Linked DNA regions of Homo sapiens: region 2 is linked to region 1. A link means that fine-mapping ties the variant in region 1 to the expression of a gene that starts in the linked region. Tissue or cell type: testis. Region 1 holds a variant in brackets; the other region holds the start of a gene. All regions are shown on one strand. Distances are from middle to middle.

Region 1 (8,452 bases):
GAAGTTTGCTGATTTTCAGTTACCATAAATAACACAGATTTAATATTGTTTGCTAAAATGCAAATTATTTCCCTCTCAATCCAACAATTTGTTCTCATAAAAGTCTCTGTTAACATGCACACACACAGGTTCAAGTGCATGTATGCAGGATAAAGAGAGATCTTCAGTCTATGACATCCTTCTTCAACAAAATCTTGTGTTATATAGCTAAATTGTCGATGCTAGTTAGATATAGTTCTGAAACCTAGCCTGGCCCTTAGCTGTACAAACTTATTGCCTAATTAATAAAATAATATTATCTCAAAATGTAGAAATGAGGTATAAGCTTTAAATATCAAGTGACTAGTCAAGTGTCTGTTATACTGAAGGTAGATACAATATATTGTTTCTTTCATATAAGTGTCATTTGGCTACAAATCTGTTTATATAATTTAATAAATCCTAGACAAATAGGAAAGAATCTAAAACAATATGCTTTATGATATATACAAATTTATTTTTAAATCCTATAAAACAATTATTTCAAACAGAGTAAACTGGAAATCTTCCCATTGCTTCAGGAAGGTCTGATGCAGACCGTAATGCAATGTGAGTATATTTAACATTTTCTAAGTAAAGAAAGAATCCAAACCACACAAAGAAAATTGTCAATGGAAAGAAAGCAGAGCTGAAGGCCAAAGGAAGAATAACTAAGAATACAGATTGAATAGAGAGGTTCCTTTTCTCTCTTAATATTTCCATACACCAGGTAAAACAAAACATAACATGTTCTGAAAATAACAAAACAGGCTATGATGGTCTAAACCCCAAATGCAGTTGGCAATGATAATATTAAAAAGAAAACAGAAGATCTTCTTTAAGGGTTATCGCAATAAAAATCAAACTACTTTTATCAGAAAATCATGAAAAGCACCTAAATTATTAGTGAAACACCAAGGCATTTTCATTAAAGTCAAACCAAAAAAGAAGTATAAGAGTTGTTAAAAAAAAATAAAGATACCAATTGCATAAATAATTTGGGAAAAGCAAGATAATATATTATTGTATTGATAGAGTAAGTTAGTAAATTAGTTGGTTTGCTTTAAACAAGGTCAACATAAAAATATCAAAATATTTCCAGGACAGTAATAACCAATCATCAATGTAATGATCAAAAAGTTCATTGAAATAAGAGCAAAACATAAATCACAATGTAGAATGGTATTTGTAAGGCTTAACAATAAATGATAATCTCAAAATTTTAAAATATTGCCATATCTTTGTTTGGAAAAGTTGTAATTACTTTATTTTTTATTTTTCTCCTTGCTAATTTCTTTAATCACCATTCAAAGTTTGTTGGTTACATGTTTTTTTTTTTATTTTCTAGGAATAGAACAATTATATATTTTACCATTTTTCTATTATTTTTTGTCTTTTTTTCTCATTAATTTCCCTTACACTGATGATAAATTTTTTGCCCAGAAGGCTTTGTCCATTTGAGGTAACTACTTTAAATGAGATTGAATAATTTAATTACTTTCTCATTATGCTTATTCTTGACATGAAATTAAATCCAAATAATTTTTGCCTCAATAAAATCCAATTTTTAAAAAATATGATTGGAATTAGGAAGATCAATTATGTTACAAAAATGGGCATGCCTACATAACAAAATGTTAAAATTAGAAATGTAATTGTGGTAGAATTGTGAAATAAGAACACCTTGTTGAACAATACAGTGGATGCCATTTATATAGTGGACCAACAATGTTTCTGCTGGAATTGTGGAATAAACAGACACTCTTACAGATGACAATGTCTGTGGTATCTCCTGGCATAACACTTTCATGAGCTCACATTGCGTATTATATTTGATTTGCTAAACATTAGTTATAAAAATTATTGCTCCGTTCAAATTTTATATTTTATTTTCTGAAGTATACATTTATTTCCTATAAATATAAATTTGTTTGCAAGTATTTGAGAAGTCCCAAATTCATTACACATATTTGTTACAAGTAAAATCTAAATGAGACTGTTTTTTCAAATGTAATGTATTCCATTTAACACAAAATTGGCAGATATTGTTTTCAACTGAATTATGTGTTAAATATTCATCTACACAAGATTCAATATAATCACTTTAATTTAAAAAAAATTGGTTCCCTGCTATATTATTTTCAACGTGTAAAAGATTATTTATAGAAGTGTTTTAACAGCAAGGTACCGGCCGGGCATGGTGGCTCATGCCTGTAATCCCAACACTTTGGGAGGTTGAGGCGGGTGGATCACCAGAGGTCGGAAGTTCGAGATCAGCCTGGCTAACATGGTGAAACCCCTTCTCTACTAAATATAAAAAATTAGCTGGGTGTGGTGACACATGCCTATAATCCCAGCTACTCAGGAGGTTGAGGCAGGAGAATCGCTTGAACATGTGAGGCGGAGGTTGCAGTGGGCCAGGATCAAGCCACTGCACTCCAGCCTGGGCGACAGAGCGAGACTCGGTCTCAAAAAACAAACAAAAACAGCAAGGTGCCATAAAATTTTTATGGAGGTAACAGAATTGAAGAATATTCTATGATTTCTGTCTTTATCTATGCCCACAATATTAATAAAAGGTGTATCTCTTAATAATTAATCAACACAGCAATGGTTGCATTTAGTAACCCGAAGTTTAGTATTTTAGGATTATCACTTTACATGTGTAATTTTATGGCGTATTACCCGTAAGATATTAAAAATGAATGGATTCTGCATTGAACCACAGTATAAGAATTTATTAGGCACCTCATTTTGACATGGGTTATATTTTAAAGCTGTGTTAATATTTTCTATATTGGCAATCACAAATTATAACTTAGAAATATATTTAAGTTCTAACAAATATATAAAGTTTAACAAGACTCAGCTTGTAGTTCTTAATTATAGATTATATCTTTTTTTATATTGTGGCTATATTTGTTTTAATTAATTTTAATTAATTGACCTGCGTTAATACTTGTTTGAAAATAAGTTCACAATGCCTATGATGTTTTGTGATTGTTTTTAGCCTTTTGACTGGTTTGTTTTAACTTAACTTTTTAAAAGTACATACGTTTTATTTTTAAAAGAGCCTTTAAATATAAATTATTTTGGCACATTTACATCTATCAATATGGCATACATTTAGTTTTAGATATAATATATTTTATGTTATGAATTCTAAATTTGTTGGTTTTTTCAAATTATGTATAGATATTATAATAATATTTGTAAAAAGCAACAAATTTAGAAATTGAAAAAGGGTGTGCTTTTATTCCAGTCTTTATAAATAGAATTTTTTGTGTGTGAGGAATAAGTATTAAAACCTGATTATATAAAACTGTCTCTTCTGGATTCTGAAACTTGAGCTATAAACAAAACAGACAAATCTTGTGCTGTCATGGAGACAATAAACCATTATACAAATTCATATTCATTCATATGCATATCTTTTTTTAAGGAATGACATTTTATTTCAAAAGTATCATGGCATCAAATGAAATAGATATGAATAATGGAGAAAACTACATTCTTTTTATTTATTTTACATTTTATTTATTTTTTTAATCCTTGTTTTTTACACCCAGAGGTAAAATTACTGGGTAATATGGTAATTCTATATTTAATTTTTTTGAAAAACCACCATAGTATTTTCCATAGAGGCTGCATCATTTTACATTGCTACTAGCAATACAAATGCTTTTTAAAAAATAGATAATAGCCACCCTATTTGGGTGTTTAATTATATCCCATGATGTTTTCTTTTAGGTAAACTTTATTTTTTTAAAGTAGTTTTAGGTTAACAGCTAAATTGAACAGAAAGTGCAGAGAATTTTCATACACTCCCTGTATCCTCAAATGCACAGCCTCCCCATTATCAACATCCCCCACCAGAGTAGTATATTTGTTATAATGGATAAGCCTGCATTGACACATCATTATAACCCAGAGTCTGTAGTTTATATTAAGGTTCACTCTTGGTGTTGTACATTGTGTGTTTTAATGAATGTATAATGACATGCATCTACCATTATAGTATGAAATAGTTTCACTGCCCTAAAATCTCCTCTCTGTGTGGAATAATAGACATGGGACACTCCAAAGGGTGGAGTGATGAGTGGGGTGAAGAATGAGAAATTGCCTGTTTGGTATACTAAACACTATTCAGGTGATGGTTACACTAAAAGCTCAGACTTCACCACTACACAAAATATGCATGTAACCATAACGCACTTGTATTCTGTAAATCTATAAAAGAAATCTTCTGTGCTCCGCATACTCATCTCTTTCTCCCCCATAACCCCCTGTAACCTCTGATGTTTTTACTGTCTCCATAGTTGTCTAAGAGAGAGACTCTCTT[G/C]CTCCACATCCTTGCCACTATTTTATGTTGTCATTGTTCTGGATTTTAACTATTCCAATAGGGATGTAGTAGTATCTTGTTTTAATTTGCATTTCCCTGATGGCATATGATAATGAGCATCTTTTACAGGCTTATTTGTCATCTTTATATCTTCTTTGTAAAGTGTCTATTGAGGTCTTTGGCCCATTTTTTAATAAGGTTGTTTATTTTCCCATTGTTGAGTTATCATAAGCCTACCAAAATTTCCCTGTTGAGAGAAGGTGGTAGGTTGTTTTAATTACAACTGTTAAAATTTTATTTATTTTAGCTTGAGGATATTGAAATGTATTATTAAACTGATTATTATGGAATTAAAATGAAATACTGATAATAGGAAGAAGTAAAGCTCTTGGGCAGGTGAGAGGAAAAAAGAAACAATGAATGAAGTAAGGAAGCAGAAGACATAGCATGTAGGTACAGATATCAGAGACTTAAAAATTCAGTAGTGAGAAAGGATCAGGTTAATTATGAGTAGCTTTGTTCTTTTAGTCTCATTCAACACCCAACTGGAATAGAAAATAATAAAGGAAACAATAGAGAATCAAAATGGGCAAACCTCTCACATCAATATGGGGATGACCCCAGTGGCAGCAGATGCATATTTCTGTTATCCCTTTCTCACCCCTGGAAGTATTTTCAGATGCTGAAAGACAAGGACTTCTGCAGGATGAGTTAACCCAGGGATGCTACTAGGTTTTAGTGTCTCTCAGCTTATACACTTCACTAGTCAGGTGTATGTAGTGCATAAGTTACAAGTTTATTTACAATAAACAACTTCAAGGGACCAGGCATATCATTTAAAATCATTCCTAGATCAGTAATCAGTAAAGTGCCCATGAGGCACTCAATTATCTTTCAATTACTAAGTTTCATTGGTCAATATTTACAAGGAATTCTAGTTAAGATAAAAACCACCTCAGCTGTAGCCAAGTCATCAAATACCTTACCTGCCTACCACTTCTCCATCCCATCCCAGTGTACACTCTGACCCGGAGCAGTATCACTTTGCCTCATGTACCTTAATCATCTTAAGACAATAACTGCATCATTTCATACTATGCAGGACACTGTTTACCATTCCTGTATTAAGACAATTACTGCTTTATTTTATAGAATGCAGGACACTTTTTACCATGTTGATGATCACGAGGATTTGTATCACGTGAGGAAAAGCAAAAACTTATTCTAAAAAACAAAAATAAATGAACTATGAACTTCTCACTTTACAAGTCCATTGATCATATTTTACCATTTGGAATATTATTTTTCCTCGTGTGTTAACAAGTACATTTTTACGTGTATTGATGGAGGCATTGTATTGCATCCTAATTTTACTAAGGTCAGGTCACACTGACCTCTTTTTCTGACTAATCCAGTTACCCAGGTATGGTATCAATTAGAGGCTTCAATTCAGTTTTTCCAAATACTTTCGTATCCTGTGGTTTATCATCTCCATTTAATTTTGCTAATAATACTATAAAACTTTTTATACTGCATAGCTATAGAAGGAAGTTTAGATAAATAGATTAATATCTAACATACCAAATGGTTAAAATTAGAGTACAATTTTTATTCATATCTAATAGAAATACTTTTAACCATTAACTACACATTTACAGTGTCTGGGATAGTAACAGAAAGGTATTGTTTAGTACATTGTAGTTTGAATCTGGGTGATGGATATAACTATATTCTAGATATTATAATCCAGATTCTCACCAATACAAACTTTCAGATATTATTTTGAAATACTGCCCATCCATCTCACCTGGGAATACAACTCTGTTGGCCCACTTTTAACTGGTTGAAATTAACTGGTTAAAATTATCTTTTAAACCATTATGTTCCAGCCATTGAAAACAATAATAAAAGCCACACTACCATAGTGTAATTTTACCAGTAATATTTCTACAAATTATTCTTATTTCACTACACTCTGGCTCAGTTGCTATAATGTCTAGTCACTGACCTTTAAAACTTCAGATTCTATAGTGATATAGATATCTCTAATAGAATTTGAGGGTACAAACCCTTTCTTTGGTTTGTTGAAAAGTTGTGTTGTTGACAGAGATGTTTCTTCAGTGAAGTAGTGCATTCAGTCCACACATGAATTCTTTTATTTTCTTATCAAACTGCCAGCCTTGGCAAGCCTCCTTGAAGAGCTCCCCTTATAATACCCCTATTTCCATTAGAAAATGCCTGGACTATGTACTCCAAGTCCAATCCATAAGGTTCTCATTATTTGTGTGTCAGTAAAGACTAGGGATGTCCAATTTTCTACATATGTTGTTGCCATCAGATGCCCATGCAGGTGTGTAGTTTGAGTAAGCAATAAACTCCCTGAAATATGAAGCATGTGGTTCCACAAGTGGCTGTCAGTTGGCTATATATTATTTCTAATAATTTGCATCTGGGAATGTCAGAAGGCTTCTTACAGTGGCCCTTTGGAAGAAACAAGGACCATTACAAGCAAAATGCCACCAAAATAGCACCACTCTCTTCATGCCATCCGAGTTCTTCTTTCTCTAAATTTCTGCTGTTCACATTTGCTTTTATCGTATTTGTTACCAAAACTCCAAGGGTTTGATCTAGGACCTGCTGCTTGATGTACAAAAAGCAATGACTAAGACAATGAGTTTTGCCAGGGAAGAAGGCTTTATTTGAGTGCTACAGCCAAGGAGCTGGGAGATCAGCCTCAAACCTGTCTCCTTGTCTAACTAAAATTAGGGGTTTATATAGCAGAGAAGAAATGTAATCATGTGTGGGAAAACAGGAATTAGGGAAAAGAAAGGAAAAGGAATTGGTCAACAGGAAGCAGGAGTTAGATAGGCAGTTATGACAAGTGAGCGGTCTGGCATCTCATTGTCTAAATGTAGTGATCCAGTAAGTTTCAGCTGCTTGATGCTATCTGGGAGGACTTATAGTTGGTTTCCTGACAAAGAAACTTACATGAAACGAATATAACTTTTTCAAGTTTTAAGACTGGGAGGATCAATTTCTATGTTTATTCAAAGAAACCACGAACATCGGTTGTGTGGAACAACTGGACCTGTTTCATATTCAGAAGAGCAGAGTAGGCTCTGCCCTACTGCTCAGGTGGCAACAGCGTGATTTGAGCTCTACTCAGGGAGCTGTCACAGCGAAGTCTCATCATGCTTCGCAGACATACAGAATGTAGACACTTGCCTCTCCAGTATCTTCCATTCTGACAGATATAAAGATAGTATCTTTCTCAAGATCTCTGAAAAATAACCATACTACGAAACATATTTCTCAAACTGTAAGATGAGTACAAAGACAATTTCTATTCTCGCATTCCATCTGCCACGAGAATCATGTTTTCTAAAGTCTACACTCAAAAGTTTCTTTGTTTTAGGGTTGATGACTTCAGATACGTGCATTACACTTTCTCTGCTGAACTATTATCAAGTGAATTTCTCATGGCTTCTAACTTAGGACAGAACTTTAGAAATAAATGACTGTTTAGTTTAGAGTTGTACTCATTTTCTATTGCTGTTCTAACAAATTACCACCAACTTCAGGGCTTAAAACAACACTTAAAAAATATATAGTTCTGGAGGTTAGACGTCTGAAATATGCCTCATGGGGATAAAATCATGGTGTTGGTAGGGCTGTACTACATTAGGAGGCTCTTGTCTTTCTTAGCTTCTAGTGGCCAACTTCATTCCCTGAGTTGTGATCCCTCTATCTTCAAACTCAGCAATAGCATCTCTCCAAACTTTGCGTCAGCCATCACGTCTCCTTGTCAGGCTTTGACTCTTCTGTCTCCCACTCACAAGAAACACTGATTACACCTGGCCTCATTACAAGATCCTCATTTAAAGGCTCATTAAAAGATCCTCATTTAAAGATCTGAGAAAGAAAAAACACAAAATGCTCTTTATTTTACAATTTAAAAATTTACCTTCACTTCTTATTCTTATACATTTTAGAACTTCTGTAGAGTAACAGAAAATGAAAATGTCTTTACATGATGTTAATATTTTTGTTTATTTTTGACTCTTTACATTTTGTAAAGCCAATATAAAATGT
Region 2 (8,452 bases), 87 kb before region 1:
CTAGGGACACACCTCAATGTAATAAAAGTCACCTATGACAAACCCACAGTCAACATAATACTGAATGGAGAAAAGTTGAAGGCTTTTCCTCTGAGAACTGGAACAAGAGAAGGAGGCCCACTCTCACTGCTCCTCTTCAACATACTACTGGATGTCCTAGCCAGAGCAAGCAGACAAGAGAAAGAAATAAAGGACATTCAAATCAGTAAAGAGAAAGTCAAACTGTCACTGTTTGCTGATAATATGATTGCTTACCTCAAAAAATCCAAAGGCTCCTCCAGAAAGTTCCTAGAACTGATGAAAGAATTCAGCAAAGTTTCTGGATACAAGATAAATGTACCCAATTCAGTAGCTCTTCTATATACAAACAGCAACCAAGCAGAGAATCAAATCAAGAACTCAACCCTGTTTACAATAGCTGCAAAAATAAATAAATAAATAAAATGCTTAGGAATATACCTAACCAAGGAGGCTAAAGACCACTACAAGGAAAACTACAAAATGCTGCTGAAAGAAATCATAGATGACACAAACAAATGGAAACACATCCCATGGTCACGGATGGGTAGAATCAACATTGGGAAAATGACCATACTGCCAAAAGCGTTCTAGAAATTTAATGCGATACCCATCAAAATACCACCATCATTCTTCACAGAATTAGAAAAAAAAAACCCTAAAATTCATATGGAACCAAAATAAAGCCTGCATAGCCAAAGCAAGACTAAGCAAAAAGAACAAATCTGGAGGCATAACACTACCTGATTTCAAACTATACTATAAGGCCATAGTCACCAAAACAACATGGTACTGGTATAAAAATGGGCACACAGACCAATGGGACAGAATAAAGAACCCAGAAATAAACCCAAATACTTATGACCAACTGACCTTGGACAAAGCAAACTAAAACATAAAATGGGAAAAGGACAACTTTTTTCAGCAAATGGTGCTGGGATAATTGGCTAGCCACAGGTAGGAGAATGAAACTGTATCCTCATCTCTCACCTTAAACAAAAATTAGCTCAAGATTGATTAAGGACTTAAATCTAAGACCTGAAACTGTAAAAATTATAGAAGATAATATCAGAAAAATCCTTCTAGACATTGGCTTAGGCAAGGATTTCATGAACAAGAACCCAAAAGCAAATGAAATAAAAACAAATATACATAGTTAGGACTTAATTAAACTAAAGAGCTTTTGCATAGCAAAAGAAACAGTCAGTAGAGTAAACAGACAACACACAGAGTGGGTCTTCATAATCTGTACATCTGAAAAAGGACTAATATCAAAAATCTACAATGAACTCAAACAAATCAGTAAGAAAAAAGCAAACAATCCCATTAAAAAGTAGGCTAAGGACATGACTGGACAATTCTGAAAAGAAGATATACAAATGGCCAACAAACATATGAAAAGTGCTCAACATCACTAATGATCAGGGAAATGCAAATCAAAACCACAATATGATACCACCTTACTCCTGGAAGAACAGCCACAATCAAAAAATCAAAAACAGTAGATGCTGGCTTGGATGCAGTGATCAGGGAACACTTCTACACTGCTGGTGGGAATGTAAACTAGTACAGCCACTATGGAAAACAGTGTGGGGATTCCTTAAAGAACTAAAAGTAGAACTACCATTTGATTCAGCAATCTCACTACTGTGTATCTATACAAAGGAAAATAAGTTATTAAAGAAATTTGCACATGCTTGTTTATAGCAGCACAATTTGCAGTTGAAAAATTGTGTAACCAACCCAAATGCCCATCAATCAATGACTGATCAATGAGTGGATAGAGAATCTGTGAGATACATACATATATATATATATATATATATATATTCAATACTGCTCAGCCATAAAAAGGAATGAATTAACGGCATTTGCAACAACCTGGATGAAATTGGAAACTATTATTCTAAGTGAAGTAACTCAGGAATGGAAAACCAAACACTGTATGTTCTCACTGATATGTGGGAGCTAAGCTCTGAGGACAAAAAGGCATAAGAATGATACAATGGACTCTGGGGACTTGAGGGGAAGGGTGGGAAGGGTGAGAAGGGGGCCAGGGATAAAATACTACAAACAGGGTGCAGTGTACACTGCTCAGGTGATGGGTGCACCAAAATCTCACAAATCACCACTAAAGAACTTACTCATGTAACCAAATACCACCTGTACCCCAATAACTGATAAGAAAAAAAATGAGGTAGGTGAATTATTTGAGCCCAAGAGTTTGAGGCTGTATTGAGCTATAATCACACCACTGCACTCCTGCCTAAATGACTGAGAGACCCTTCTCTAAAAAAAAAAAAAAAAAAAAAGAAAAGATATTATATTTTGAGACAATAGTTAGATAAATTCTAAATAAATAAATAAATAAAAATGAAAGGAATCCAGCATGCTAATGAGAGTGGTTTGGCTTAAATTGAAATATAAACATTGTTCATCATAATAACAAAGGTTGATCTTATATGTGTTCAAAAGAAAGTAGTTTTGTAAATTTGGTGGCAGAGGATGAGTGAATTGTCTTTACGGTGCTTCCATTTTCTTAGAGAAATAAAAACAAAGTCAACAGTTGAGAAAAGAAGAGTCAGTGTTATAGATTGGCAATAAGAGAATTTGTAAATTAATGTATTGCTAGAGTAGGAGGACAATTGACTAAAAGCAGTAATAGGATGCTGGTGAATGCTGAGATTTCACTTGAATCCTTCAGTCATAAATTTAAAGTAAGATCAGTAAACAAAGTTATGCACTTCTCTTCAGCTCTGTGTCGCTGCTTCAGTATAGACATAAAGATCTCAAAAAGCCAGTTTTCATCAGAGTTAGGATTTTCTAGTAAGTAGGATGAGGCAAAGAGGAAGAAAACTAGGTATGCGTAAAAGAGTCTTACTTAGAGCAATGTGTTATAATATATCTAATTTCAATTGAAAAGGAAATTAACAATACTGTATTGTGTGTATGTTTTTAAGATGGTAGATCTTATGTTAAGTGTTCTTATTGAAAAAAATAAAAATAAAAATAATTTAGGACATGAGAACTTCGACAAAGGATTGAGTGAGTTTGAAAGAAAATTGGGGAAGTCGAACAAAATTGATTAACTACAGGTACAGGATATATAAAAAATTAACTAGAGATATAGGCTATAGTTCTAAAATACAGTGTCATATATTAAGTTCATCCATTGTGCTAGTCAGTGTTCTCTAGAGAAATAGAACCTATAGCATACACACACACAAACATATAACATAGAGGTGTGTCTGAACATATATATATATGTATGTATACATAGATGTATAAAATATGTATGTATTTATTTACTTATGTCACTATATACTATATACCAGCTTGTAGATGGTAGAGAATGGGATATCTAACCTTCCACAATCACTTGAGCATATATTTATTTATTTATTATAAGGTATTTATTTTAAGGTATTTGCTTATGTAATTATGAAAGCTGAAAAGTCCCATGATGTACCTTCTGCAAGATGAAGATCCAGGAAAGCTGGAGGTGTAGTGTAAAGGGCTAATGATGTAAATTCCAGTCCAGGTCTGAAGACCTGAGAACTAAGTATGCCTAGCACAGGAAAAGATCAATGTTCCAGTTCATGTTGTCAAGCAGAGAAAGGGAGAATTCCCCCTTCCCCTATCTTTTTGCTCTATTCAGGAATTCAATGTATTGGATGGTGTCTACCCACATAAGTGAGTACGATGTACTGTACTCAGTCTAATTCAAATACTACCTCCTCTGGAAACACCCTCACAGACACACCCAGAAATAACATTTAACTAAATGTCTGTGCATCTTGTGAGCCCATCAGTTTGACACATAAAATTAACTATTACAATCATCAACCAATAAATAATTCTTGAGTATGTAACAGGTGTCAAACACTATATCATATTTGGAAATACAGTTTTGAACAAGCAGAAGGGTAAGTGTCCTGGCCTAATGAAGGTTATATATTATTTGGCTAGAAAATACAATAAACATGACAAATAATAATTATCTTTTGCTATGTTAAAAATAAAAAGACCATTTATGTCTTAAAACAAACAAGAAGCCAGAATATATTTTTCTCTTTTAGGTATCTGTGGAATGTCTAGGCTCTGAAGAGCAGTTCTTACTTGGAATTTCTCTCACTGCTGCATTTTGTTGTTTGCTGAGTCTGAAGTAGACATTTGAAAGCTTAATTAGGCTGGATATCCAAGAGAGTTCATTTATGTGTGTATTAGTCCATTCTTGCATTGCTATAAAGAAATGCCTGAGACTGGGTAATTTATAAAGAAAGGAGGATTAATTGGCTCACAATTCTGCAGGCTGTATAGGAAACATAATGCTGGCATCTGCTTGATTTCCGGGAAGGCCTCAGGAAATTTTCAATTGTGGCAGAAGGGATAGGGGAAGCAGGAATGTCTTACATGGTGGGAGCAGGAGAAAGAGAGAGAGGAGAGAAGTGCTACACACTTAAAAACAACCAGGTATCATGATAACTCACTCACTATCATGAGTATAGCACTGAGGGTATGTCACTAAACCATTCTTGAGAACTCGGCCCCCATGATTCAATCACCTCCCACCAGGCCCCACCTCCAACACTGAGGACTACAATTCAACATAAAATTTGGGTGGAGTCACAGATTCAAAACCTATCAGTGTCTGGCAGTAAATGTTGGATGTCATTTGAGAGCTCAGCTGAACCTTGGATTGGTGCAAATATTAAAAGCAATGGCAAGAACGACAGTTACTTTTGCACTAACCTAATATATTTAACCATTCCATGTGACTTGAGCATCACATAGCATGGTGCTTGCATTTTAAAAGGGAGAGTTCCAAGAACAAGAATTCTAAGAGAATTGTGTGGAGGCTACAAGACATCTTATGACATAGTCATAGAATTCTCAGAATATGGCTTCTCCTGCATTCTATAGTTCAAGCAGTCACTTGAATGCCAGTTTAGATTCAAGAGGAGAACAATTAGACTCCACCAATGTCAGACTGCTAAAATGTAAAAGTGAGATTGTGCCATCTTTGGAAAATACGATTGGTCACAGATTGTATATTAGAAGTTGATAAGCATAAATGGGTGGTGGGAGGATAAATTAGGAATGATGAAAAGAAAGAATCTCAGGAGATGTAATTTTAAATAGGGAGGTCAGGGTAGAGCTCATTGAAAATGCAAAATATTAGTGACAATCTTGTAGTAAAGTACTGCTCAGCACATAATTTGCATGTCCTTCAACATTGCCTCAACACCTTGCCACAAAATAAATTGAAGTCACATTTTCACTTTCAATCTTTGGCAGCTGTATATAGATATTAGTTCATCACTAAAACACCACACATTAGTATCTTGAAATCAATGTGGCTATAGTGAAGTAAGTGAAAAGAGTAAAATAACACAATGATGTCAGAGTCGTAACTGATGTTCTATTCAGTTAGAGTCCTTTAGGCATTACATGACTTTAGCTTTTTTTTTCTTTGAGTTAACTGTGTTTTGAACACAACCGACATCATATTCTAACTTGCCTTATGTTTAAATTGGAATATAGCTGCTCTTGACAATGATCAATGATCAAAAGTGGACAGGATATAACTAGGAAAACCAGTTAAGAAGCGATTGGAATAAAACAGTAGATAAGAGTGGCATGTACGAAGGTGCTATAAAGAGAAGCGATGAGAGGTAGTAATATTATGAACGTATTTTGACAGAATGGCCATCAGGATTTTCTAGGGCAGCATAATTATTCTGCGAGTAGGTAAAGGAGTTTTGATTGAGATGAAGAGGTCATAGAAGTGAGAAGCACTGAAAGACACAGAGTAAGTAGATATAAATCTCTAGAGATAGAGGTGATACCTAAATCTGTCTGCTTAGTATCATTTTTAACTTTATATTAATGGTGATACAATATTATATATGTGATACTATGTCTAATTTTACCAAAATTTCTTATCTAACTAAAAATATTGTGGAATTGGCTGTTTTTCAAAAGTGATGAAAATCTCTGCATTAGTTTCTCACATTTTCCTACAATTTCACACTATATAACCTCTTCGAGGATATGATTACATTGAAAGTGCAGTCCCATAGGAAATGAGTTTTAAGTTCTGATTAACTTTCCCGACAGATTTTTTTTGATGCAATTAACAATGACTTCACTAACCCACTCCTTCTTTATTACACATAAGTTCAATTATTTTAAAAACTCAGAGGAATCAAAACATACATACTACTTAATTGCCAGTAAATTTGGCCAACAATTAGAATGAAATGTAAGGTGCTTAACATGTCAGCTGTGTATACACTCTGAAAACACTAATATATTCCTAAAGAAAAATTAAAAAGTTGGAAGAGGCATTCATAAAAGAGAAGCATTTCCAGGTGGCTGTAGATTTGTTTGGTTAGGTGGCTTGTAGTTATATAGCTGTTTGTTTAACAGTTCATTATCACCGTCAAGAGGAGTCAGAGGATGCAATGTAAGAAATGTAGTTAGAGAAGATAATATGACAAATTTCTTTTCTGTTCCATCCACTATTTATGCCATAATAAACTATAAATATGCTGGGTTTTGGTGCATTTGATTACCATTATACTTCATTATCTTCATTTACCTTTAAATGGACATTTAATTCATTTCTACGTTGAGATATTATAATCAACATATTAATACATAAGTATATTTTTATGGATATAGACTATGATTTCTATGAAATGCTGGCTGAACCAAGTTGTATGTCACTGTAGATTTTGGATACTGAGCAATTTTCCTCCAAAAAAAATAAAGTAACTATCAATAGCAGTTTTTCTAGCAATGTAGGAAAATTAACCTCTTTTTATAGCACAGCCAACTTAAATATTGCAACTTTTCAGATTTCTATCTTATTTTAAATTATGTTTATTTTTAAATTTTAACCTAGTTGGCTTGAGAATTTATTCACAAATATATTGATTATTTGAAACTTTGATTGAAGGTTTTAACTTTTTAACCATTTTTATTTAGATTTATTTTCAATTACATTTTAATAGCTATTGATATTAATATATGTACTAGAATATTTGAGGATGAATTTTATCTTAAAAAAAGGAAGAAGGCCAGTGTGACAGGAACAAATAGAGAGAGAGAGAGAGAGAGAGAGAGAGAGAGAGACATTAAGCTGAAAGACAGAGGTCATTTAAAGTGGTGCCCTTATTTGCCACAAGATAAAAGTGAGGCTATTGAAAGAAATTAAGCATAGAAGAAAAATAATCAGATTTGCATTTTGCAAAGATTTTTCTGGGTTACTCTCTAAATAATAGATTAGAGGAGTTGGTCTTGTGTATGCACAGTTAATCATCTATTGCAGTAGTCTGGGAGATAGAAGTTGGTAGCTTAAACTAGCTTATGGAGGTGGTAATAAAGATAATTAAATGGATTTTAGGGATGCTTACAAAGCAGATTACCATGTTATGCTGTTCTATTGTAAAATAAATGTGAGAAGTAGAGGTGTTTCTCCATTTTTAACTTGTGGACCTGGATGCATGATAGTGACTTTTCAAATGTAGTAACTCAGAAAAAACTAGTGTGACCGTAACTGAGACTTGGAAAAAGATAAATGTTATTAAATTTTAAAAATTTATTAAAAATTTCCTCTTATTCACCCTTTAAATTTATGTCCTATGTGTTATTTCAGGTGGGGTCACTCTCTCAGTTTTTTTTTAAGGGTTAGTACTTCATCGTAATCCTCAGGGGATACTTTCCAATACCCCCAATGGATGCCGGAAACCACAGATAGCAGCAAACCCTATGTATGCTATGTGTTTTCCTATACAAACATATCTATGATAAAGTTTAACTTATAATTAGGTGCAGTAAGAAATTAAAAACAATAATATTAAATAATAAAATAAAATTATAAAAATATACTGTAACAAAAGTTATGTGAATGTAGTCTCTTTCTCTCTGCTCTCAAAATATCTTATTGTACTGTACTGCAATTAACTGAAATCATGGGAAGCCAAATTGCAGATTAGGGGGTAATTCTGTAGTCTTTGCATTTAAATTTTATAAATTTTCTTTATTAATGTTATCTGCCATTTTACTTAGGTTTATGATTTTGTAACTGGCTATATTCATCATTACATAATGCAAGGATTCTAATTTTGAAGTGACAAAGTTTCATCTTATCCAAATATACTCCCATTTTGAATTAGGTTAATAAATGTGGAAATTCAGAGTTTCTTCTAACTAATACTTAATCTTATTCCTTCTTAGTACCCACCTTCTTTTGAAAATGTTTCTTATAGAGAATCAGTTAGTGTCCTGGGAAATTGCTATTGATTAATAATTTGTGCTGTTAGGTGGCAAACAAAGCGATGGACCTGACAGCCAAAAATATACAGTCATTATACCTGAGAGAAAGGGAAGTTCTCTCCATAGTAACAAAACTCTGGAAGTCTTTGCT

What was found.
Region 2: LINC00376 starts here. The variant in region 1 is fine-mapped to the expression of LINC00376 in testis (GTEx, PIP 0.96).

The regions. Positions count from the first base shown.
Region 1 is chr13:63,237,392-63,245,843 of GRCh38, reverse strand. All of the region lies in intron 3 of LINC00376 (long intergenic non-protein coding RNA 376), which reads left to right. Among named protein-coding and RNA genes, the nearest start is that of LINC00376, 86 kb to the left of the region's middle. The variant G/C (reference allele first, on the strand shown) is at 4,361.
Region 2 is chr13:63,324,626-63,333,077 of GRCh38, reverse strand. LINC00376 (long intergenic non-protein coding RNA 376) reads left to right here and starts at 4,984. Exons shown (of 7, transcript NR_126409.1): 1 at 4,984-5,024; 2 at 5,723-5,830.